Regions from separate parts of the Homo sapiens genome. Here region 2 is linked to region 1. The links come from fine-mapping of genetic effects on gene expression. Tissue or cell type: whole blood. Region 1 holds a variant in brackets; the other region holds the start of a gene. All regions are shown on one strand. Distances are from middle to middle.

Evidence for each region. PIP is the estimated chance that this variant, and not a neighbour inherited with it, causes the effect.
Region 2: it holds the start of FAM161B, and the variant in region 1 is fine-mapped to the expression of FAM161B in whole blood (TOPMed, PIP 0.97).

Annotation. Positions count from the first base shown.
Region 1 is chr14:74,335,579-74,341,174 of GRCh38, reverse strand. It overlaps a transcript of VRTN not described here. Among named protein-coding and RNA genes, the nearest start is that of VRTN, 10 kb to the left of the region's middle. The variant C/T (reference allele first, on the strand shown) is at 2,550.
Region 2 is chr14:73,947,559-73,952,558 of GRCh38, reverse strand. It overlaps FAM161B (FAM161 centrosomal protein B), which reads left to right and starts at 2,465. Exons shown (of 9, transcript NM_152445.3): 1 at 2,465-2,586. The coding sequence starts at 2,533. COQ6 (coenzyme Q6, monooxygenase) reads right to left here and starts at 2,257. Exons shown (of 12, transcript NM_182476.3): 1 at 2,064-2,257. The coding sequence starts at 2,226. RefSeq lists a silencer at 207-505 and enhancers at 2,499-2,558, 1,575-2,575.

The sequences.
Region 1 (5,596 bases):
TCAGTAAATAGTGCTGCTATTCAGTTATTCTCTTCCCTACTCACCTTCTTTCTACAGAGATTTAAAGAATTCATCCATCTGTCCCATCAATTAATTCATTCACTCAATGACTTGTTAAATAATTTGTTATTTCAGCTGGGCACGGTGGCTCACACCTGTAATCCCAGCACTCTGGGAGGCCGAGGCAGGCGGATCACAGGGTCAGGAGATCAAGACCATCCTGGCCAACATGGTGAAACCCCGTCTCTACTAAAAACACAAAAATTAGCCGGGAGTGGCTGCGCGTACTCCAGCTACTCAGGAGGCTGAGGCAGGAGAATTGCTTGAACCCAGGAGGCAGAGGCTGCAGTGAGCTGAGATTGCGTCACTGCACTCCAGCCTGGGCGACAGAGCAAGACTCCGTCTCAAAAAATAAAAATAAAAATAAATTGTTATTTCATATAATTCATCATTCATTCAATCATTTATTTATTCACTTGTGCATTTATTCATACATTCAGTCATTCATTCAACAGATATTTGAGCTCTTAATATGTGCCAGGTTCCAGGCTAGCCCCAGGAATACAATGATGTCTACAGACTGAACTCTAGACTTTAGAGTGTGAGAGTTGAAACTCAAAAGGCTTCTCATTGGCCGGGTATGGTGGCTCACGCCTGTAATCCCAGCACTTTGGGAGGCGGAGGTAGGCGGATCACCTCTCAGGAGTTCAAGACCAGCCTGACCAATATGGTGAAACCCCGTGTCTACTAAAAATACAAACATGGCCGGGCGCGGTGGCTCACGCCTGTAATCCCAGCACTTTGGGAGGCCGAGGTGGGTGGATCACCTGAGGTCAGGAGTTTGAGACCAGCCTGACCAACATGGAGAAACACCGTCTCTACTAAAAATACAAAATTAGCCGGGCGTGGTGGCACATGCCTATAATCCCAGCTACTAGGGAGGCTGAAGTAGGAGAATCGCTTGAACCTGGGAGGCGGAGGTTGCGGTGAGCTGAGATCGTGCCCTTGCACTCCAGCCTGGGCAACAAGAGCAAAACTCCGTCTCAAAAAAAAAAAAAAAAAAATACAAACATTAGCTGAGTGTGGTGGCACACACCTGTATTCCCAGCTATTGGGAAGGCTGAGGAAGGAGAATTGCTTGAACCCAGGAGGCAGAGGTTGCAGTGAGCTGAGATCATGCCACTGCACTCTAGCCTGGGCAGCAGAGTGAGACTCCATCTCAAAAAAAAGAAAAGGCTTCTCATTCATTCTACAACACAACAAACACCTATTATATTCACTGTAAACAAAGGCCTTAAATCCAATTACTGCTAGTCTTACTTTTATGACATGTTCTCCTAGCTTCTTTTATTTTCTGTTTTTGAGACAGGGTCTTCTCTGTTGCCCAAGCTGGAATTCAGTGGTGCAATCACAGCTCACTGCAGCCTCAAAATACTGGGCTCAATCGATCCTCCCGCCTCAGCCTCCCAAGTAGCTGGGACTACAGGCATGTGCCACCATGCCCAATGAAATTTTTTCTTATTAGTAGAGATGGTGCCTCACTATTTTTCCCAGCCTGCTCTAGAACTCCTGGGCTCAAGTGATCCTCCCACTGCCTTGGCCCCTGAAGTGTTGAGATTACAGACATGAGCCACCATGCCCACCCTGATTTCTTTTTCTTTTGTTCTTTCTTTCTCCTTCCTTTTTCTCTCCCCCTCCTCCACCCTTCTCTTTTACCCTCTCTTGCCTGTACCCAGGACTGAGACCTTTACTCCCCCATCCAGAGTCCCTTGGTGACTACCAAGAGATGGATGACCACTCAGACTCTGGAGTCAGAGCAACCAGAATTGAGTCTCAGCTCCCCTACTTCCTAGTTACAGAACTTTGAACATGCCTGACCCTCAGTTTCCTCATCTGTGAAATGGGGCGAGTGATATCTACTTTACAGGGCCAATGAAATGATCTGATAAAACAGCCATAACACTACTTGGCCCTGAGGAAATAATACCAGGGAAATATGATTGTCAATTCAAATTACAATTAGTGGCTCCCACCTGTAATCCTAGCTACTTGGGAGGCTGAAGCAGGAGGATCACTTGAGGCCAGGGGTTCAAAGTCAACCTGGGCACCCTAGTAAGACCCTGTCTCAAAAAAAAAGAAAAGAAAAAAATGGCTTGGCACAGTGGCTCACTCTTGTAATCCCAGCTCTTTGGGAGTCCAAGTCAGGCAGATCACCTGAAGTCAGGAGTTCGAGAGCAACCTGGCCAACATGGTGAAACCTCATCTCTACTAAAAATCTAAAAATTAGCCGGGCATGGTGGCTCACACCTGTAGTCCCAGCTACTCAGGAGGCTGAGGCACAAGAATTGCTTGAACCCAGGAGGCGGAGGTTGCAGTGAGCTGACATCTTGCCACTGCACTCCAGCCTGGGCAACAGAGTGAGACTCGATCTCAAAAATAAAAAATAAAAATAGTTAGCTGAATGTGGTGGCATGCAACTATAGTCCCAGCTACTCAGGAGGCTGAAGCAGGAGGATCACTAGAGCCCAGGAGTTTGAGGCTTCAGTGAG[C/T]TGTGATTATGCCACTCCACTCCAGCCTGGGCAACAGAGCAAGATTCTATCTCTAAAACAAAAAACAAATTACAATTTGTTAAACATCTACTCTGTGTAGGCATTATACTCAGCTCTGTGGAAGACACACAAAGAGTGAACGCAGTCTTCCAGTCAGGACAGAAGAGTGCATAGCAAATTCTCTATGGTAAGAGCTCATAATGAGAGCTACCATGACTTGCTATTACTGAGGAAAGTAACAAGTATTTCTTGAGCCCCTCATTCCTGGGTACTGGCGTTTCTCAGAGATCTGTGCTAAGAGGGCTGTCAGGCTGATGCTGGCTTCTCTGGTTTCATTTGCAACTCCAATCTAACATTATTCATGGCTTTAAGTCATTTCACTTAGGGGTAAGTGTGAATATAGATTAGATATTAGAGTATACGAAGCAATTAATGTTAAATTTGTTAGGAGTGAGAACAGTATGATGGTTACATAGGAAAATGTTCTAAACTTTTAGATATACATTTCAGAATTTAGGAATAAAATGTCAGGGATTTGATTTTTTTAATCAGAAAAAAGAATATATATGGCACAATGTGATACTTTTTGGATCAGGAGTTCATTTTACTATTCATTCTGAGTGGTTCATTATACCATTTTTCATTTTGGGTGTGCTTAATAACTTTTACAATAAAAAGATGAAACATTTTATTTGAGGAGTGAAGTATCACTTTAAAGGAGCAAAGGGGAAGGACACTTACCTGCAAGCCAGGCTCCCACTTCAGGGAAAAGCAGGCAGCCCAGGTACCTGGGATGGGCAATGTCATTGGCAACCTGGATTGCCATCTGCTTGTTTGCAGGGTCTTTGATAGGTGCCTTTGGGGCAGTGGGCTTCACAGAGCAGCTGTCCTCAGGAAACGTACCTGGCGAGGCAAGAAGGCTTGTCAATAACTCAGCCCTTCTCCCACCCCAAGAAAACAGGCACAGGTACCCACTAGGGGAACAGTTGGCCCTGAAGCAGTTTCAAGGGCTTGTGGTCCTTCCCCTCCGAGTTTGTTGCATTTCTTCAGCCCTCTCTATTTCATCCATGAAGGGGAAACAAGACCACAAGGCCAAACTCAACGTCTCCCAATCACCCTGCTCTTCCTCTCAGGCCTAGTATCTTTGGTCTTGGTTAGTTTACTCCCAACTCCTTTCATCCCCCATTACCACACACTGGCAACCACCTTTATTAGTTTCCTTCCAGAGTTTCTTTTTTTGTTGTTTTGTTTGTTTGTTTGTTTTTGTTTGTTTTTTGTTTTTTTGAGGCAGGGTCTCACTCTGTCACCCAGCTAGAGTAAAGTGGCACGATCTCGGCTCACTGCAACCTCCGCCTCCCAGGTTCAAGCAATTCTCCTGCCTCAGCTTCCCGAATAGCTGGGACTACAGGCATGTGCCACCATGCCCAGCTAATTTTTGTATTTTTAGTAGAGACTGGGTTTCACCATGTTCACCAGACTGGTCTCAAACTCCTGACCTCAAGTGATCCACCCACCTCAGTCTTAAAGTGCTGGGATGACAGGCGTGACCCACTGCACCTGGCCCAGAGTTTCTTTTCATCAGTACAAACAGATACAAAAATACATTCTTCAAGGACAGTATGTTCTGAACAGGCATAAACCCAATTCAAAGTAAATTTTCAAAATACGTAAAATTACAAAATGTTCCAGGTAAGAGTGAAGTAAGTGTGGGAGTTGTTAGCATCTAGATAAGATCTAAAGCCAAAGGGGTAAGAAAAGAGGAGAAAAAGAGGAGAGAAAGAAAAAGGACAATTCTCTAAAGTCACCTAGAGGAAAATAGCGAAAAAAATTACCAAGAGGAAACTTTTTTTTTGAGATGGAGTTTCGCTCTTGTTGCCCAGGCTGGAGTGCAATGGCACGATCTCAACTGACCGCAACCTCCACCTCCGTCTGGTTCAAGCGATTCACCAGGAGGGAACATTTTAGTTCAATTATATTACCCACTACTGATGTGTCAATAGATCTATGGGAACTAACCCAGAAAGATAGCCAAATTAAAGTGGGATTTCAGAGTTAAATAAATCTTATGAATCCACTTTTGCAAAAATCTATCTATTATGTATGTATATATATATACACGTGTTTAGGGAGTAGAAAGAAGTGTCTGGGAGACTATAAATGGAGCAAACTAATGGAAAACCCTGGAGAAGAGGTTTGTGGAAAGAGGCGGGTTTTTTTTGAGACAGAGTTTCACTCTTGTTGCCTAGGCTGGAGTGCAATGGTGCAATCTCGGCTAACTGCAACCTCCGCCTCCCAGGTTCAAGCAATTCTCCTGCCTCAGCCTCCCGAGCAGCTGGGATTACAAGCATGCAGCACCATGCCCAGCTAATTTTGTATTTTTAGTAGAGACAGGGTTTCTCCATGTTGGTCAGGCTGGTCTCAAACTCCTGACCTCAGGTGATCTGCCTGCCTCAGCCTCCCAAAGTGCTGGATTACAGGCGTGAGCCACCGCACCTGGCCAGCTTTTTTACTTTGCACACTTCAGTTTTGTTTGCATTTTTGCCACAAGAATGCATTCTTTTTGTAAATAAATAAAGAAGATCTGAGGCTGGGTGCGGTGGCTCACACCTGTAATACCAGCACTTTGAGAAGCCGAGGCAGGCAGATCACTTGAGGTCAGAAGTTTGAGACCAGCCTGGCCAACATGGTGAAACCCCATCTCTACTAAAGACACAAAAATTAGCTGGGCCTAGTGGTTCATATCTGTCATCCCAGCTATTCGGGAGGCTGAAGCAGGAGAATTGCTTGAACCCAAGAGGCGGAGGTTGCAGTCAGCCGAGACCATACCACTGCACTCCAGCCTGGGCAACAGAGCAAGACCCTATCTCACAAAAAAAAAAAAAAAATAGAACATCTGTAAAAGGGGAGAAACTGCTTAAGGACACCTATATTGAAAATTTCTAAGCCTGTATAGAATGGCAATGAAAATCACTGGCTTTAGAGTTGAATAAACATGGGTTTAAATCCCAGCTCTACTGAGCCTTAATTTCCTCATCTGTAAAATAGTG
Region 2 (5,000 bases), 390 kb after region 1:
TCTACAAAAAAAAATTTTTTTTAACTAGCCAGGCATGGTGGCACACCTGAGCTATGTTTGTGCAACTGCAGTCCTACCTGGGGGACAGAGCAAAACCCTGTCTCAAAAACTACAAAAAAGAAAAGAAAAGAAAGAAAGGTCAGGCACAGTGGGTCACACCTATAATCCCAGCACTTTGGGAGACTGAGGTGATGGATCAGTTGAGCTCAGGAGTTCAAGACCAGCGTGGGCAACATGGTGAAACCCCATCTCTACTAAAAACACAAAAATTAGCCAGGTGTGATGGCGGGCGCCTGTGGTCCCAGCTCCTCAGAAGGCTGAGGCAGGAGAATCACTGGAACCTGGGAGGCAGAGGTTGCAGTGAGCTGGGATCCTGCCACTGCACTCCAGCCTGGGTGACAGAGCAGAGACTCTGTCTCAAAAAAAAAAAAAAAAAAAAAAAAAGTTAGCTCCAGCCATACAGACAGTGAGCGGTCCATCTTGGCAGCTTTTGCTGTGGAGGATGGGGCACAGGGACATGCTCTGTAGAGCATGCTCTGTAAAGGGCACTATCTTCTTTTTTTTTTTTTTTTTTTTTTGAGATATCGAGTTTCGCTCTTGTTGCCCAGGCTGGAGTGCAGTGGCGCGATCTCAGCTCACTGCAACCTCCCCCTTCCAGTTTCAAGCGATTCTCCTGCCTCAGCCTCCCAAGCAGCCATGAGAACCACCCTGTTACAGAAGTCTATGATCTGCTTTAAGTTAAATTTTGTGTATCTTGTGAGATGAGGATCATAGGGTGGAACAGCTGCCCTTAGATCAGGGTGTCCAATCTTTTGGCTTCCCCAGGCCACAGTGGAAGAATTGTCTTGGGTCACATATAAAAAAACACTAATATTAATGATAGCTGATGAGCTAAAAAAAAAAAAAAAATCACAAAAAAAAAATCTCATAATGGGCCAAGCATGGTGATTCATGCCTGTAATCCCAGCACTTTGGGAGGAAGGGGCAGGTGGATCACGAGATCAGGAGTTCGAGACCAGCCTGGCCAATATGGTGAAACCCCGTCTCTACTAAAAATACAAAAATTAGCCAGGCATGGTGGCACAAGCCTGTAATCCCAGAGGTTGCAGTGAGCTGAGATCGTGCCATTGTACTCCATCCTGGGCAACAAGAGCGAAACTCCATCTCAGGGAAAAAAAAAAAAGTGAAAAGACTACAAAATGGAAGAAAATATTTGCAAGTCATTTATCAGATAAGGGACTTATACAGAATAAACAAAATAATGGCCAGGCAGGGTTGCTTATGCCGGTAATCCCAGCACTTTGGGAGGCTGAGGCAGGTGGATTGCTTGAGCCCAGAAGTTCCAGACCAGCCTGGGCAACATAGTGAGACCTCGTCTCTACAAAAAAATACAAAAATCAGCCGAGTGGTGGCGCATTCCTGCAGTCCCAGCTATTTGGGAGGCAGAGGCAGGAGGATCAATTCAGCCAGGGAGGTTGAGGCTACAGTGAGCCGTGATCGTGCCACTGCACTGCAGCCTGGGCACAGCGGAAGACCCTGTCTCAAAAAATAAAAATAACTCTTACCACAGTATTCAAGAGACAAACTGCTCAATTAAAAACCGGGCAAAGGGTCTGAATAGGCATTTCTCTAAAGAAGATATACAAATGACCAATAAACATATGAAAGGATATTCAACATCATTAATCATTAGGGAAATACAAGTCAAAACCTGGAGATCCCACTTTACTTACACCCACTAGAATGTCTATAAACAAAAAGACAATGACAAGTACTGTCCAGGATCTGGAGAAACTGGAACTCTCATTTATAAATAACCCCGGGAAGGCCTGTTTTCCCATGAGTAGAACAGACTCTGAACGCCCCTCCCACTTTTGACCCTAATGGACCCTGAAGGACCACACGCATTCCGGCGTGCCCTGGGGTTCCTCTAGGAGGGGAGGGGAGAAGCGTCGCGAGACCTGAGAAATTGTCTTTGGGCAAGTCGTGCTAGGGCTCTCACGGCTCTCATCGTGCCTCCGCGGCCCGGTTTCCGGCCACTAGTAGCCTGGAGAAGGGCTTACCCAAGGCACAGGCCATGGCAGCGCCCACCAGGCCTCCACCCGACACCACCACGTCATACACGGTGTCTGTTGAGGCGCCGGACCACCTGCGCCAGGACACCAGCGGGCCGCTGTGGGGAGCTGCACGCACAGCCCCGCATCGGCTGACAAGCCGGGCCGCCATGGTGCAGACCTGCGCCGTCGCACTCAGAACTCCCGCAGGCCCACCTACGTAGTGCGTCCGGAGCAGAGCACTCCAATCCCGTCCCGCTTCCGCGGCGTCCTCAGAACCGGAAATAAAATGCGCGGAGAAAATAGGCCAATCGGAAAACGAACCTTGCCTCCTCGGGCGGGATGGATCGGAGGCTGCCCTGGAAGCCAACCAGACGCCAAAGCTAGAAAGGGGTGGACCCTGGCCCCGCATAGCTCTCGCTGCCACCGCTGCTGCCACTATCGCTGTCACTGTCGCTGCTGCCTCTGTCCAGCTGAAATGACCGTGGGGAGGCCTGAGGGAGCCCCCGGAGGCGCGGAGGGGAGCCGTCAGGTGAGGAGAGAAAAGAGACTGCCCCCGGGAAAGGAATCCCGGAGAGGAAACTGTTGGGCGTTGCCTTGGAGACAGACAGCAGGGGCGTGTCACGGAGGGGCGTGGGATTAAAATGAGCGTTTAGGGACCAGGAGGCGGACTCTGACTTACAGACCTGAACCTCTCGGACTTTATACGAGGCTCTTGATAGGCAATGTCACTCAGTTTTCGCTTATCCTCTTAGTACTCTATGACCAGTAGTACAATTGTCGTCTCATTTTTGTAGAAGAGAAAACTGAGGCACAAAGAGATTAAGAAAATTGCTCCCCAAATTTGGCCGGGCGTGGTGGTTCACGCCTGTAATCCTAGCACTTTGGGAGGCCGAGGCGGGTGGATCACCTGAGGTCAGGAGTTCGAGACCAGCCTGGCCAACATGGTGAAACTCCGTCTAAAAATTTAAAAAAAAAAAAAAAATTGGCCAGGCGCGCTGGCTCACGCCTGTAATCCCAGCACTTTGGGAGGCCAAGGAAAGCGGATCATGAGGTCAAGAGATCGAGACCAGGCTGGTTTCCATGGCAAAACCCCGTCTCTACTAAAAATACAAAAATTGGCCGGGTGCGGTGGCTTACTCCTGTAATGCAGCACTTTGGGACCTGAGGTCAGGAGTTCAAGACCAGCCTGACCAACATGGAGAAACCCTGTCTCTACTAAAAAAAATACAAAATTAGCTGGACGTGGTGGCACATGCCTGTAATCCCAGCTACTCGGGAGGCTGAGGCAAGAGAATTGCTTGAACCTGGGAGGTGGAGGTTGCAGTGAGCCGAGATTGTGCCATTGCACTCCAGCCTGGGCAACAAGAGCAAAACTCTCTCAAAAACAAAAACAAACAAACAAAAAAATACAAAAAATTATCTGGGCATGGTGGTGCGCGCCTGTAGTCCTAGCTACTCGGGAGGCTGAGGCAGGAGAATCACTTGAACCCGGGAGGTGGAGGTTGCAGTGAGCCAAGATTGCACCACTGCACTCTAGCCTGGCGACAGAGCGAGACTCCGTCTCAAAAAAAAAAAAAAATTAGCCAGGTGTGGTGGCGCGTGCCTCCAGTGATCCACCAGCCAAGGCCTCCCAAAGTGCTGGGATTACAGGCGTGAGCCAGTGCACCTGGTGGACCCCAAACTATTAAAGGCAAAAAGTAGATTGGCAGTTGCTTAGGGCTGGTGGGGTGGGGTGTGGAGGGTTAGGGGAAATAGGGAGTGACCACTAAAGCGTGTGGCATTTCTTTTAAGGGCGATGAAGGTGTTCTAAAATTGTGATGGTAGTTGCACAACTCTGTGTATATACTAAAACCACTGAATTGTACACTTTAAATGAGTGAATATATTGTATAGAAATTATGTCTTAATAAAGTTGTCTTTAAAAGAAAAGAAAAAACGTGCCCAAGATCACACACTGTAGCAGAGCCAGGGCTAGGGTGCATACATATCTCTGACTCTTACCCTGGATTTTAGTAAGCCTGGCTCCTCATCAATCAAGTGTCAATTCAAAATTCCTCCACAATGAAAAATAAAAATCAGCCCAGGACTGAGAAAGTATAACTCAGACTGTCATAGGCATAGATAATGCCAACGGCAAGAGCATCAGGAAACAGTGTTTCTCTCAGGGCCATAACATAGGTGCAAAATTACTAACACCCCTTCTTCCAAAAGGCTTACTGATCAATTACTTACCCACCCTACTTTATTCTTCTCACCTTTTGAATAAGTATTGCCGTTGGGCGGGGCCCAATGGCTCACGCCTGTAATCCCAGCACTTTGGGAGGCCAAGGCAGGCGGATCATTTGAGCTCAGGAGTTGGAGACCAGCCTGGGAAGCATGGTGAAACCCCATCTGTACAAAAAATACAAAAACTAGCCAGGTGTGATGGTGTGTGCTGTAGTCCCAGCTACTCGGGAGGCTGAGGTGGGAGGATCATCACCTGAGCTCAGGAGGTTCAGGCTGCAGTGAGGCATGATTGCACCACTGCACTCCAGAACCTGGGTGACAGAGCAAGAACCTGTCTCAAAAAAAAAAAATTGCTCAGTCATTCGCTTAACTAAATTGTCCCCACTTCATGACAGCACCATTCCAGAGTTGATACCTGGTTCCCTGAATCAATCAGGGAAGCCAACCCTATAAAAATCACACCCTCAACCCTAAGTTCCCTGTGGTTTTCCGTAGTGTCCTGCAGCAAGTTAATAAGCCTAACTGATGTACTGATTACAAGTACATTCCTAATAACCTTAATCTGATGGACTTTATCAACCAAAAAGCTTTCCATAGGCACTCCATCTTTTTATAACCTCACAGTTGTTTATGGTTTTCACAGAATTTATCATCATCTTATATTGTCTGTCTCCTCTTACTACAGTGTAAGCTTCATGAGAGTAAGGACCTTGTTTG